4 linked regions of the Homo sapiens genome follow. The protein of the gene in region 2 interacts with the protein of the main gene of each other region in a biochemical or structural test. Each region holds a gene or a part of one and is shown on either strand. Other genes may lie near its edges.

Region 1 (3,500 bases), on a different chromosome or scaffold from region 2:
CCCTCGGAAGGGAGGCTGGGTGGTCCATGGACATCTGCAGTCGGTGTGTGTTGCCCCTTACCCTGCTCCAGGCTCGGACACCACCTATAGAAAGAGGTCAGACTGCAGAGGCTGAGTCTCAGCTCCTGTGCTGAGAAGCAGAGGGCATTTCTTCCTGTTTGAGAAGCATGTTCTCAGGGTTACGTTCCTATGTGGTAAAATACTAATATCTTTAAAGGCAAGAGAATTGTATACCCAAAATTCAGAAAAGTGCTTCCCTTGGGGAGCGGGAGAAGCTAGGGGATGGGATTGAGGAGGAGTACACACGGAGGATCAGAGGGACTGGGAGTGTTTCTAAGTTTGGAGGTGGGCTCTGAGGACCTCATTTGAATGCTTCAGAACATATATGTATGTTATAAATTTTTTTTGTATGACTCCAGTATTATATGATGAGAAATTTAAAAATAGAAAGCATATGGAGCTCCAAGCATTGACTCATAGCAGGAAGGCAGTCTTCGAAGAGCAGAAAGGCAAAGGCCCTGTAGGCAGTTGGAGGTTTGAGTCCCAATACCATTGCTTCCCAGCTTGGTGGCCTTGGGCAAGTTATTTAACCTTCCTAAGCCTCGATTTCCTTATCTGTAAAATGGGGATGATAATAGCACCTACCTCTAAGGATGTGGGGAGGATTTGATGGAATAATGCAGATAAACTACTTGGCTTGGTATGGATCAAATAGATGTTAGCTGCTCTTACATAATCATTATTTTCCAATCTAATGAGCAAAGGGATGGAAGAATGGAAGAGTAAAATAGGAACTCGACAACACCAAGTAAGACAGGAGCTGAGGACATCTCCCATGCTCTGGGCCATCCTATTGGCCATCCGAATTTTCCAGCACTGTGTGAAAGCCTTTGCCTAGAATGTACTAGTGTTTCTAGTTTCCGATGAGCTGCTGTGGAGGTAACTGTCTCTGTGCCCTCTACTGTCAGATCTGCTCAACTGTGTAGCTGTCAGTATTTCTCCGTTTTCCTGGAGCAGAGGGTCTGTGAAGCATGCTTCCCTGATACACCAGGACCATCCAACCCATGGAAGCTTGTTGAGACCTCAGCGCCCTTGGCTGCTGGGCCAGCTTTTCCTCCCAAACCTGCCCTCAGAGCATTTTACATTATAGAAACAAAACAAAACCAAAAAAACTGCAGGCAGTTTCACAGTGAAGGAAGCTTTACCTAAAGACTGTTAGAAGAAGCTTTTTGTCCTTGAATTCCCAGATAAAGTTCTTGCAGTCCTTGCAGATATGGTGGTTCCGAGAAAATAAGTAGGATTTTGCAATGATCATGCTTATAATTTTGGTCAGTTTTCTTTTTTTTAAGTCACAGAAAATAGAACTTGGATAAATACAGACCTGGTTTTGCTCACTCCCAGTTTGCCAAGTCAGTGAGAGGGCAGACGGGTAAATGATTCCCATCGGACCCTTGACTCCATCCCTGTCAAATCATTTGAATCTTATTAACTGAAGTGCAGATAGAGTAAGGTCAGAAGAGCCCCAGCTTCTCCCTATCTCTACCGTTTTATATAACATTCAGGAATAAAACCAGTGCTGCCTGGGCTTGTTAATCCTTTCCATTTTCAAAAAGGAGAGGAAAAAAAAAACAGTCTGGGAGAACCCAATGTTAATTAACTTGTGTCTTGGTGACATGAAATAATTCTTCTCCCTGCCACATTCCTAGGCAACATGTTAATTAACTCTGCATTAGTGCAGGCATTTCCAGCCATTCTTTAATATTTATATTATTGTTATTAAAATGGGCAGCAGAGAGCTTAAGATGGGACATCTCTTGACAGAGGAGAAAAATTGTCTTTTGCGTCAGGGATGGTCCTTTAGCCAAGGTCTTGTTTACTGGCATTCTTAGTATATCTGGCAGGATCTTTTAACAAGGCAAGTTGGAGGAGTAACTGAACGGGCCCTCTAATGTGTTTGAGTTCTTCACCCCTAGGATAACTTGTCCCCGTGAGGATTTCCAATGGCTGAGTTGCCTGTTACAGTTCTTTTCCGACATTTAGCTTCAAACATTCATGAGACCCCCATGCAGAACCTCAACTCTGCTGCTGTGTTGTATTGTTGGGAACCCAAGAGCAGCTGTTCATGTCTGTGCTGAGCCAGATCTCCTTGGATCCCTTTTCACTAATTCTTGTGTGCTGGGAGTGGTGGGGTGGCGGTGATGGCAGTGGTTTTGCTTTTAACAGCCAGCACCTGAATCTGTTAGAGCCAGAAGTATGCCTGCCCCAACTAGACCCCCAACGGACCTTAACCAGTGACAGACATGGTGGGAGTACCAAGCCCCGCAGCCTTGCCTGGAGCCAGGCATAACTTATATTCCAGGGTCCCTCCCCTCTGAGGGACTTTGCCTGAGGATACAACTTGGCTTGGCTTCCTCCCCTTCCCTCCAGCCTCCCCTGCTGCCTTCCAGGTTTTTCCTGAGAATGCCTCATTCATAAATCACTGGCACATCAATCCTTGCCTCAGGGGCTGCTTCTGGGATATCCAGCCTAAGATACCAATTCTTGGTGCCAGAGGTTAATGCTCAAGTTAGGTGTCAAGTCCCGGCTTATTTTTTACTAATATTAGAATCTCCGAATCCCAGAGCTGGAAGGGGCTACAGAGACCTTCTTTTTCAGTTCCCTTGCTTTATGGCTTAAGTCACAGAAGCCTGTACAGGGGACTCCATTTGCTCAGGTCACCTGGCAAGTTAGAGGTCATGCTGGGACCTGAACTTGTCTCCCACATATTCGTCCTTTGTCCTTCCCTTCATAGCTGCCTGATGTGGGTTGTAATTTACCCCCTGACTTCCCTTTAATAAGCTCCCTCCTTCCTTAAGGATCGCACACCCCAGGCAGTTGGATTCATTCCATGCACACTGTTTTCTCAGTCGTTCATCCTTGCTCAGGCCCAAACTTAACTTACAGAGCAGTCAGGAAACCAGAACTGTCTTTCCACTCTGTGACCTCCAATGTGGCGGTTACCTGCAGCTCCACCATCTGCTACGTTGGGATAAAATGTTCTCCCCCCAGTAATGAGTTTGCTCCCAGGCGGTGCTTTGAAAACACTCAGAGATCTTCAAATGGAAAGCAGGATTCAGAGGCAAATTAGCTGGCCCTGGCCCGAACAATGAGCTCTCCACTCACAGACCACCTCTTGTCAATTCCATTAATCTCGCCCAAATATTGCAAAATGTGTCAACTGCCCTTAGGTCCCCTACAACCTCTCAGAATGTACCCACTGATTCTCTGATATCCTGAAATCAACCAGAACTTCCAATAAGAGCAAGCATTCACCTAAAACTGTCCTAAAGGTTTTATGTAGAAACCACCTGCTAACATGCTATGTTTTCAGCCACGAGTGAAAATTACTTCCTGCAGCAAGACTGGCACAGCTGGGAATACACCCAAGATGTGTTAAAACATAACCAGCGTTGGCTTAGCCCTTGACCATGGGTGCCCTGACATGCTTCGTTTGGTTGTTT
Region 2 (3,500 bases):
GTTAATGAAATAAATAGTCACCCAATGATAAAGGTCAGAATAAATTACCTTTGTGAAGAAGTATTGACTGGAAAGGAGATGAAACAACCCACTAGAGTGCTATAAAAATGTTATATATCTTGATCTGCGTGATGGCTACAAAACAGGTGTACACATATGAAAATTTATTGAACTGTACGCTTGAAATTTGTGCATTACACTGTAAGTTACACCTCAATGTAAAAGAAAAAAGTTAACGTGAGAAGCAGCAATCTCACAATGACATTTAGGGAACAAAGTATTATAAACTAAAATAACTACAAATCAAAGTTTGTCTGCCTTTTAGCTTTAAATCTCAGTTTTGCAAACATTCTCACAGGTTGGGGAAAGAGATGTCCATGAGGACTTAAAAAAACCCACAAAGACAAGATTCCAATAAACCGTCAGATAAGCACACTTAACCTTTAATCATAACATATTTTCAATAAGTTTTCTGAATATTTAAACAAAGTGTACTTTATTAGTAGTATGAACCTTAAAAGGAAATCAGCTTCTCAAGATGGAGTTAAACACTCTGGATGACCGTTATAAGGAGAATTGTGAACAACTAAGTATTCAGACTAGGTTACCTCTAAAAGCCCCTTCCCTATTTTGAAATCCTATGACTTTAGAAAACCAGAAAAGTGCAGCCGGGCACGGTGGCTTGCACCTGTAATCCCACCATTTTGGGAGGCCAAGATGGGAGATCACTTGAGATCAGGAGTTCGTGACTAGCTTGGCCAACATGACGAAACCCCGTCTCTACTAAAAATACAAACATTAGCCAGGCGTGGTGGTGTGCGCCTGTAGTCCCAGCTGCTTCTGAGGCTGAGTGAGGGGAATCGCTTGAACCCAGGAGGTGGGAGGTTGCAGTGAGCCGAGATCACGCCTCTAGCCTGGGTGATGGGGGAGACTCCGTCTCCAAAAAAAAAAAAAAAATGCAATTTAACTTACCATCAGATTAAACCTAAGGTTTACCTTTTAAATGGAAAATCACTGACAGAGAAAGTTTCAATAGATTACTACTCATACTATTAATACTTACTCTAGCAAATTCCTTAGGGTATTTATGAAAATAAAATAGAGATAAAGATTGGCCGGGCACAGTGGCTCACACCTGTAATCCCTACACTTTGGGAGGCCAAGGTGGGCAGATCATTTCAGGTCAGGAGTTCAAGGCCAGCCTGGCCAACATGGTAAAAACCCCATCTTTACTAAAAATATAAAAATTAGCTGGGTGTGGTGGCACACACCTTTAATCCCAGTCCCAGCTACTCAGAAGGCTGAGGCATGAGAATCGGTTGAACCTGGGAGATGGAGGTAGCAGTGAGCCAAGATTGTGCCACTGCACTCCAGTCTGGGCAAAAGAGTGAGACTCTGTCTAAAAAAAAAAAGTAGAAAGAGCTTCATTAAAGAGTACTACAACATATTGCTATTAATGATAAAATAATTTTTGAAAAAAAAATTTTTTTTTCAGACACAGTTTCACTCTTGTTGCCCAGGCTGGAGTGCAGTGGTACTATCTCAACTCACTGCAACCTCTGCCTCCCGGTTTCAAGTGATTTCCTACCTCAGCCTCCTGAGCAGATGGAATTACAGGTGCCCACCACCACACCTGGCTAATTTTTTGCATAATTAGTAGAGATAGGTTTTATTTTATTTTTTTTTTTTAGACGGAGTTGTGCCGCTCTTATTGCCCAGGCTGAAGTGCAATGGCGTGATCTCAGCTCACCACAACCTCCACCTCCCGGGTTCAAGCAATTCTCCTGCCTCGGCCTCCCAAGTAGCTGAGATTACAGGCATGTGCCACCACGTCCGGCTAATTTTGTATTTTTAGTAGAGACGAGGTTTCTCCATGTTGGTTGGGTTGGTCTCGAACTCCCGACCTCAAGTGATCCTCCTGCCTCAGCCTCCCAAAGTGCTGGGATTACAGGCATGAGCCACCGTGCCCGGCTGAGACAGGTTTTCATCATGTTGGCCAGGCTGGTCTCAAAAACTCCTGACCTCAGGTGATCCATCCGCCTCAGCCTTCCAAAGTGCTGGGATTACAGGCATGAGCCACAGTGCCGAGCCAATTTTTGAAATTTTTTTTGTATTTTATTCATACTACAGTCAAACACATTCAGAATCTTAAACAGCATCATACAGCAAAACTTAGTAGGTAAGTTTTGATTGAATAAAAATTTCAAAAAAGCATTCTTAAGATGAATTTTTATCCTAATAGTTCCCTATAAGAAGAAACCCACCACCCAAATTTAGCATAATTTGTTCTTTAGTACCATAGGTTTTCATATAACTATACTAGACAATTCTTGACACAGTGCTTACTTACTAACATCATTACCTGACTGATTAAAAAAAGTCTCAAGCTGTATTTTAGCGTAAGACCGTACTTCCCAAATTTTTTAGTAAGAGAATTTTGACCTGACACTAATTTTAAAATGTATCATAAAAGATAATTTAAATATGGTTACTCTGTTTTTTTGGAAACAGGGTCTTGCTCTGTCACTCAAGCTGGAATGCAGTGGTGTGATGACAGCTCACCGCAGTCTTGACCTCCTGGGCTCAAGCAATCCTCCTGCCTCAGCCTCTTGATTAGCTGGGACTCCAGGAGTCCACCACCATGCCAGGATTATTTATTTTTTAATTTTTTGTAGAGATGGAGTCTCACTATGTTGCCTAGCCTGGTCTCGAACTCCTAGGTTCAAGCAATCCTTCCACCTCAGCCTCCCAAAGTGCTGGGATTATAGGTATGAGCCACCACATGCCACGAATTATTCTCATGTTTTTCCTTACAAGTGAAATCTTCCTGGCCACGCATGGTGGCTCACGCCTGTAATCCCAACACTCTGGGAGGCTGAGGCGGGTGGATCATCTGAGGTCAGGAGTTCGAGTCCAGCCTAACCAACATGGAGAAACCCTGTCTCTACTAACAATACAAAATTAGCCAGGTGTGGTGGCAGGCACCTGTAATCCCAGGTATTTGGGAGGCCAAGGCAGGAGAATCACTTGAACCCGGGAGGCTGAGGCAGAAGAATCACTTGAACCCGGGAGGTGGAGGCTGCAGTGAGCCGAGATGGCACCACTGCACTCCAGCCTGGGCAACAAGGGCGTGACTCCATTTCAAAAAAAAAAAAAAGTGAAATCTTCTAAAAGTAACTGCAATTTAAATAAGAATAAATTTTTATTTCAAAATAGTATATAAATTATAAGATATGAAAGGCCACAAGAAGAAGTTGTTTTACAAAATTCCCAGATAATTAAGCAATAATAAATTTGTATTATTGTAGTAACAAAACATATTTTAGCCGGGCGCGGTGGCTCACGCCTGTAATCTATAATCCCAGCACTTTGGGAGATCAAGGTGAGCGGATCACGAGGTCAGAAGTTCGAGACCAGCCTGACTAAGATAGTGAAACCCCATCTCTACTAAAAAATACAAAATTAGCCTGGTGTGTTGGCACATGCCTGTAATCCCAGCT
Region 3 (2,518 bases), on a different chromosome or scaffold from region 2:
GGGACTGAACGGCAGCCCCAGCGCAGTTCTCCCCACGTTTGTCCGCAGAACCCCGGCGAGGCCGAGGTGGTCATTTCCCTCCCTAGCCGGATGGCCGCGCCGGGTGAGGCCGGTTTGGGCGCGAAGCACGGGCGTGTGGCGCTCCACTTCCGCAAAGGCCAGCCGCGCTCAGGACCGCGAGCCCTGAGCGTCCCCCTAGTGACCCCTGGCCTCGTGCCCGACGCCCCGTCTCTCCTGCCCCGGCCCCCCCGCCACGCAGGGCCCCGGTCACGCGCGGGGGGAGCCGGACCGCCAAAGCCCGCGAGCCGGCGCCCAGGAAAGCGTCCGCAGCCCGGCCAGTGCGGATAGGCCAATTGGCCGAAGTCGGCAAAGCTCAAGACGGCACCGCAGCAGGGGGACCCGACCCCGTTTTGTTGGGAGCCTAAGCGGAAGTGCCTTCCCCGCTCTAATGCCGGAGGAGCACGGAGGGCAAGCGGTACAGCTTCTTCCAAGTGCTGATGTGGGTGGCTCTGAAAAGAGCCTTTTGGATACGATGGAACCTCCGGCCGAACCGCCACTTCTTAAGCCCGCTCTCCACGGATGCGGCGGGCCAGCTGGATGTCCTTGGGCATAATGGTCACGCGCTTGGCGTGGATGGCGCACAGGTTCGTGTCTTCGAACAGCCCCACCAGGTAGGCCTCGCTGGCCTCCTGCAGCGCCATCACGGCCGAGCTCTGGAAGCGCAGGTCCGTCTTAAAGTCCTGCGCGATCTCGCGTACCAGCCGCTGGAAGGGCAGCTTGCGGATCAGCAGCTCCGTGGACTTCTGGTAGCGCCGGATCTCCCGCAGGGCTACGGTGCCGGGCCGGTAGCGGTGCGGCTTCTTCACCCCGCCCGTGGCCGGCGCGCTCTTGCGGGCCGCCTTGGTGGCCAGCTGCTTCCTCGGGGCCTTGCCGCCGGTCGACTTGCGAGCAGTCTGCTTAGTACGGGCCATAGCGAACCAAAACACAGGCTTACCAGCGCAGCGGCGGGGAGAAAAACGAGCTCCTAGCCCCGCCGCAGCCGTCTTTATAAGCACAGTCTTTTCCCGATTGGGCGGAACAATAATTGAAAATCCCGCGCTGGCTGTCCATTGGCTGTGACGTCACCCGTCCTAAAGTCACCGGTTGGCTTGGGCAGATTCCTCCCTAATCCCGCCCACCCCGCCTCACTTTCTACTTACCAGTTGGCGAAGTTTCGCAAGCTTGTTTTTCCCCTTTCCTTCAGGGTGAAAGTCATTTTCCATTGCAGCTTTGTCAGATTGTTCCCTTTCCGCCCTTCGCTTCCTTAGAACACACTGCCCGCAATACCCCCCCTTTCTTGCTGCGCCCTACAGCTCCCGCGTGGAACCTCATTCTTCCATTTGCCCCCCGCCCCCAGTTGCTACTTGGCGGATCGTTTTTCGCCTGTCGGGTGCCTTTTGGGTGGGAGAGGTGCCCGCCCCCAGGACGCAAGATTCCGCCTCCGAGGCCCTTACTCTCCGCCGCCAGGGCGCTTTGGAAAACAAAACAGAAACTAAGACTTAAGTCAGCTCAGTGAAGCCAAGACCCAGCTCCGCCACACTAGCGAGCACTACCCGCTCAGGGCCCTCCCCATCGGGGGTGGGGACGAGGAGCACGTCCCGCTGGTGCCAGACTAGGTCTAAGTGTCCGGCCATAGCCTGCGGAAACCACTAGGGAAGCGCGCGCTCCGCGCGCAACACTTCAGCGCGTTGGGTACTGCCCGCGGCGCTGGTGTTTGTGACTGTGTGGAGCGGACCGTGGCGGCGCCCAGGACGTTTGGTGCCTGCACCTGCCCTGGGAAGTCCTAGGACTGGGGACCCACTCATCGAAGAGCCAAGGCAGTTACGTGCTCCAGATGGAAGACGGCGCGCACACACACACACCCCGCCCCGCCCCGCCCCGTCCCGTCCCGTCCCGTCCCGTCCCGTCCCGTCAGCTCCAGGTTCGCTATTCACTACTGAGGAACGCTGGACTGAGAGTGGCCAGCATTAACAACTCTTTTATTTGAAAACGTGGGTGGCTCTGAAAAGAGCCTTTTGAGTTCACAGGTGCCCCTTCGAGACGCGGGCCGGGCTGGGCCCACTTGGGCCGGACGTCAGCCTCACTTGCCCTTTGCCTTGTGGTGACTCTCCGTCTTCTTAGGGAGCAGTACGGCCTGGATGTTAGGCAAGACGCCGCCCTGGGCGATGGTGACTTTGCCCAGCAGCTTGTTCAGTTCCTCGTCGTTGCGGATGGCCAGCTGGAGGTGACGAGGGATGATGCGCGTCTTCTTGTTGTCCCGAGCCGCGTTGCCCGCCAGCTCCAGGATCTCGGCGGTCAGATACTCGAGGACCGCAGCCATGTAGACGGGCGCGCCGGCCCCCACTCGCTCCGCGTAGTTGCCTTTGCGCAGCAAGCGATGCACTCGCCCTACCGGGAACTGAAGGCCAGCGCGGGACGAGCGCGACTTGGCCTTGGCGCGGGCCTTGCCTCCTTGCTTGCCACGACCAGACATGACAGC
Region 4 (3,500 bases), on a different chromosome or scaffold from region 2:
GAGATGGGAGTTTTGCCATGTTGCCCAGGTTAGTCTCGAACTCGTCAGCTCAAGCCATCTGCCTGCCTTGGCCTCCCAAAATGCTAGGATTACAGGCATGAGCCACTGCAGCTGGACTTTTTTTTTTTTTTTTTGAGACAGTCTCACTCTGTCACCCAGGTGGGAGTGCAGTGGCCTCATCTTGGCTCACTGAGACCTCTGCCTCCCAGGTTCAAGCAATTCTCCTGCCTCAGCCTCCTGAATAGTTGGGACTACAGGCATGCGCCACCACACCCGGCTAATGTTTTTTCTCTATTTTTAGTAGAGACGGGGTTTCACCACGTTGGCCAGGCTGGTCTCAAACTCCTGACCTCAAGTGATCCACCTGCCTCAGCCTCCCAAAGTGCTGGGATTATAGGTGTGAGCCACTGTGCCTGGCGCCCCCCGGGCCCCCTTTTTTTTTTCTTTTTCTTTTTTTTTTTGACAATGTCTTGCTCTGTTGTCCTGGCTGGAGTACAGTAGCGTGATCATGGCTCACTGTAGCCTCAAATTCCTGGGCTCAAGTGATTCTCCTGCCTCAGCCTCCTAAGTAGCTGGGACCATAGGCATACATCACCATGCCCAGCTAATTTAATTTTTTGTAGAGATAGGATATTGCTATGTTGCCCAGTCTGGGTCTCAAACTCCTGGGCTAAAGTGATCCTCTTGCCTTGGTCTCCCAAAGTGCTGGGATTACAGGTGAAAGCTACCATGCCCCGCATAAATCCTTATTTTCTAGAAACAAGAATATTCGGTTTTGTTTTTATACTTTAAATTTATGGAAAAAAAAGCAAATTTTGTTCTCTATTTTGTATTTGCCTGGGATACATTTATAGTTTAAATTTATTGGAAAAAAAAGCATTTTTTTTTTTAACATTTTGAGCACTTGAGCTGTTAGTCAAAAAACAGAATTTTTGCTCAATACATACATATTGGAAAGCTCAGATAAGAACATTTTAAAAGTAGTTTGAGACCTGGGCAACATGGTAAAACCTCATCTGTACCACAAATAGAAAAAATTAGCTGGGAGTGGTGGCACTTGCCTGTGGTCCCAGCTACTCAGGAGGCTGAGGTGGGACGATCACTTGAGCCTGGGAGCAGAGGTTGCAGTGAGATGAGATCATGCTGCTGTACTCCAATGTGGGTGACAGAGTGAGATCCTGTCTCAAAAAATAAAAAAAGAAGAAAAGAAAAAGTAAAATAAGTCTAAACAAACAGAGAGGGTAGTAAATTTATAAAATTTAAAAATAAAAAAAAAACCACTATAGGTTCAAAACAAAAAGGTGGGGCACAGAGGATTTATAGGGCAGTGAAACTACTCTGTATGGAGCTATAGTGACAGATACATGTCATTATACGTTCTCAAAATCAATAAACTATTCACCAAGAGTGAACCCTAATGTAAACTATGGGCATTGGGTAATGTGTCAGTAATGTAGGTTCATCAACTGTAACAAATGTAGCATTCTGGTGTGGAATACTGATAATGAGGGAGGCTTTATATGCCTCTGGTTGGGGAAGGGGGACTATGAGAAATGTCTGTACCTTCCTCTGAATTTTGCTGTGAATCTACAACTGCTCTAAAAAATTCAAATCTATTTAAAAAAAAAAAGTATAGGTTCAAGAAAAAATAATGAGTTAGAAAAACCATGTGATCTAATCCACTAAGACATTTCTTAAATTTTTATCTCAGAAAAAGTACAAAACAAATGCACTATAACGTTACCATGTAATGGAATTGTAACTTTATGTCCTGTTGTTCCTGTTACTGGGGCTGTGGCCATTGTTAGAAGAGTTTGACCAGGTAAAATTGATACATTTTCAGCAGTAATGCTTGAAGAAGGAGCGATTTTCAATTTTGTTCCTTCTGTTATGATCTTGTCCATAAGCATTTCCTTTGGGGGGTCCTCTCCAAAGAGTCTTCTCTTAGCACTCCCTGCGGTAGGAGAACTGTAGCGTTCATGGACAGAAATTGGAGACAATGGTTGCATATCTAAAAAAAAATAATAAATTTAAAACAGAAATGTATTCCAAAATAATAAATTAGGTTTACTCATTCACTCAACAGATAGTGAGTTACTTATGCTGGGCACTAGCTAGATATGAATAACATGGCCTTTGCCCTCATGGAATATGTAGTCTACTGGGAGAAAGAGGCATGAAATAAGTCACTACGATAAAACGTGAAAATTATGATCACTCATCTTCCTGGTTTCTTGAACCTCTGCCTACATTAAAGGAGCAAAACATTAAGGACAAAGTAGAGGTTGAGAGGTAGAATGAAGTGAGCACTAAATTTTAGTAGTAGTCCAATATCTCCCAATCTTACCTAGTAGAGAGCACCTGAGAAGAAGGGAAGCAAAAGCAAAAATCAGGAATTTGGGTCACAGTTTTGCCTCTTTGTGAATATTTGCACTCCAAGCAGTTTAAGGCGGTAGCTCTGGCTTTCTAATTTAGTAGATATGGAATCATCTTTAGTAAATCTATCAGAAGATATGAGTAAAGATGATATAAATCTGCTTACCTTGCCTTAATCTGAGGGTTGGCAGTACTGTGTTGATCAAAAATAAAGTAAGGATTATGGATTTTGCCTCTCTTCCTGTGCTATCCTTTCACAGGATCTGCTTTCCATTCCCTCTCTACCAGCTGCACGGGTTTTTCTAGCCCCTTACAACCCTACATCTTTTCTACATCTTTTTTCACAATTCTTCCCTCAACCAATTATTCCTTACAGGTAGGTCAATAATATGCTTTTAAAACAAAAGTATTTATTTATTTATGAGATGGAGTCTTGCTCTGTCACCCAGGCTGGAGTGCAGTGGCACGATTTTGGCCTACTGTGACCTCTGCCTCTTGGGTTCAAGCGATTCTCCTGCCTCAGCCTCCCAAGTAGCTGGGACTACAGGCATGTGCCACCATGCCTGGCTAATTTTTCTATTTTTAGTAGAGACAGGGTTTTGCCATGTTGGCCAGGCTGGTCTTGAACTCCTGACCTCAGGTGATCCACCTGCCTCATTTGGGATTACAAGCTTCAGCCACCGTGCCCGGCCTTCATTATTTATTTTTACATTCACTAGATAATTAGATAGTCATGTAATCTATTTTCTTTTCTTTTTTTTTTTTTTTTTGAGATGGAGTCTCGCTCTGTTGCCCAGGCTGGAGTGCAGTGGTATGATCTCAGCTCACTGCAAGCTCCGCCTCCCAGGTTCACGCCATTCTCCTGCCTCAGCCTCCTGAGTAGCTGGAACTACAGGCAACCGCCACCATGCCCGGCTAATTTTTTGTATTTTTAGTAGAGATGGGGTTTCACCGTGTTAGCCAGGATGGTCTCGATCTCCTGACCTCGTGATCTGCCCGCCTCGGCCTCCCAAAGTGCTGGGATTACAGGCGTGAGCCACTGCGCCTGGCCCTGTAATCTATTTTCAAAACATGTTCAAAAGGTATGAAAATGACCCCTGGCAATGATTTAGAAGCTCTCTGTA

Evidence for each region. Proteins that work in one complex are often made in the same cells at the same time.
Region 1: the proteins of KDM5A (region 2) and LMO2 form a complex in vitro, tested with the Homo sapiens proteins (one study listed by BioGRID).
Region 3: the proteins of KDM5A (region 2) and H3C15 form a complex in vitro, tested with the Homo sapiens proteins (one study listed by BioGRID).
Region 4: the proteins of KDM5A (region 2) and RBL1 form a complex in vitro, tested with the Homo sapiens proteins (one study listed by BioGRID).

Annotation. Positions count from the first base shown.
Region 1 is NC_000011.10:33,861,077-33,864,576, reverse strand, and holds part of LMO2 (rhombotin-2), read left to right. Parts: intron 1-3,500. UniProt on the Homo sapiens protein: Acts with TAL1/SCL to regulate red blood cell development. Also acts with LDB1 to maintain erythroid precursors in an immature state.
Region 2 is NC_000012.12:379,321-382,820, forward strand, and holds part of KDM5A (lysine-specific demethylase 5A), read right to left. Parts: intron 1-3,500. UniProt on the Homo sapiens protein: Histone demethylase that specifically demethylates 'Lys-4' of histone H3, thereby playing a central role in histone code. Does not demethylate histone H3 'Lys-9', H3 'Lys-27', H3 'Lys-36', H3 'Lys-79' or H4 'Lys-20'.
Region 3 is NC_000001.11:149,851,108-149,853,625, reverse strand, and holds H3C15 (histone H3.2), read right to left. Parts: upstream 1,019-2,518; 5' UTR 972-1,018; coding exon 561-971; 3' UTR 501-560; downstream 1-500. Other genes in the region: H2AC19 (histone H2A type 2-A), read right to left, coding at 2,120-2,512. UniProt on the Homo sapiens protein: Core component of nucleosome. Nucleosomes wrap and compact DNA into chromatin, limiting DNA accessibility to the cellular machineries which require DNA as a template.
Region 4 is NC_000020.11:37,033,498-37,036,997, forward strand, and holds part of RBL1 (retinoblastoma-like protein 1), read right to left. Parts: intron 2,012-3,500; coding exon 1,745-2,011; intron 1-1,744. UniProt on the Homo sapiens protein: Key regulator of entry into cell division. Directly involved in heterochromatin formation by maintaining overall chromatin structure and, in particular, that of constitutive heterochromatin by stabilizing histone methylation.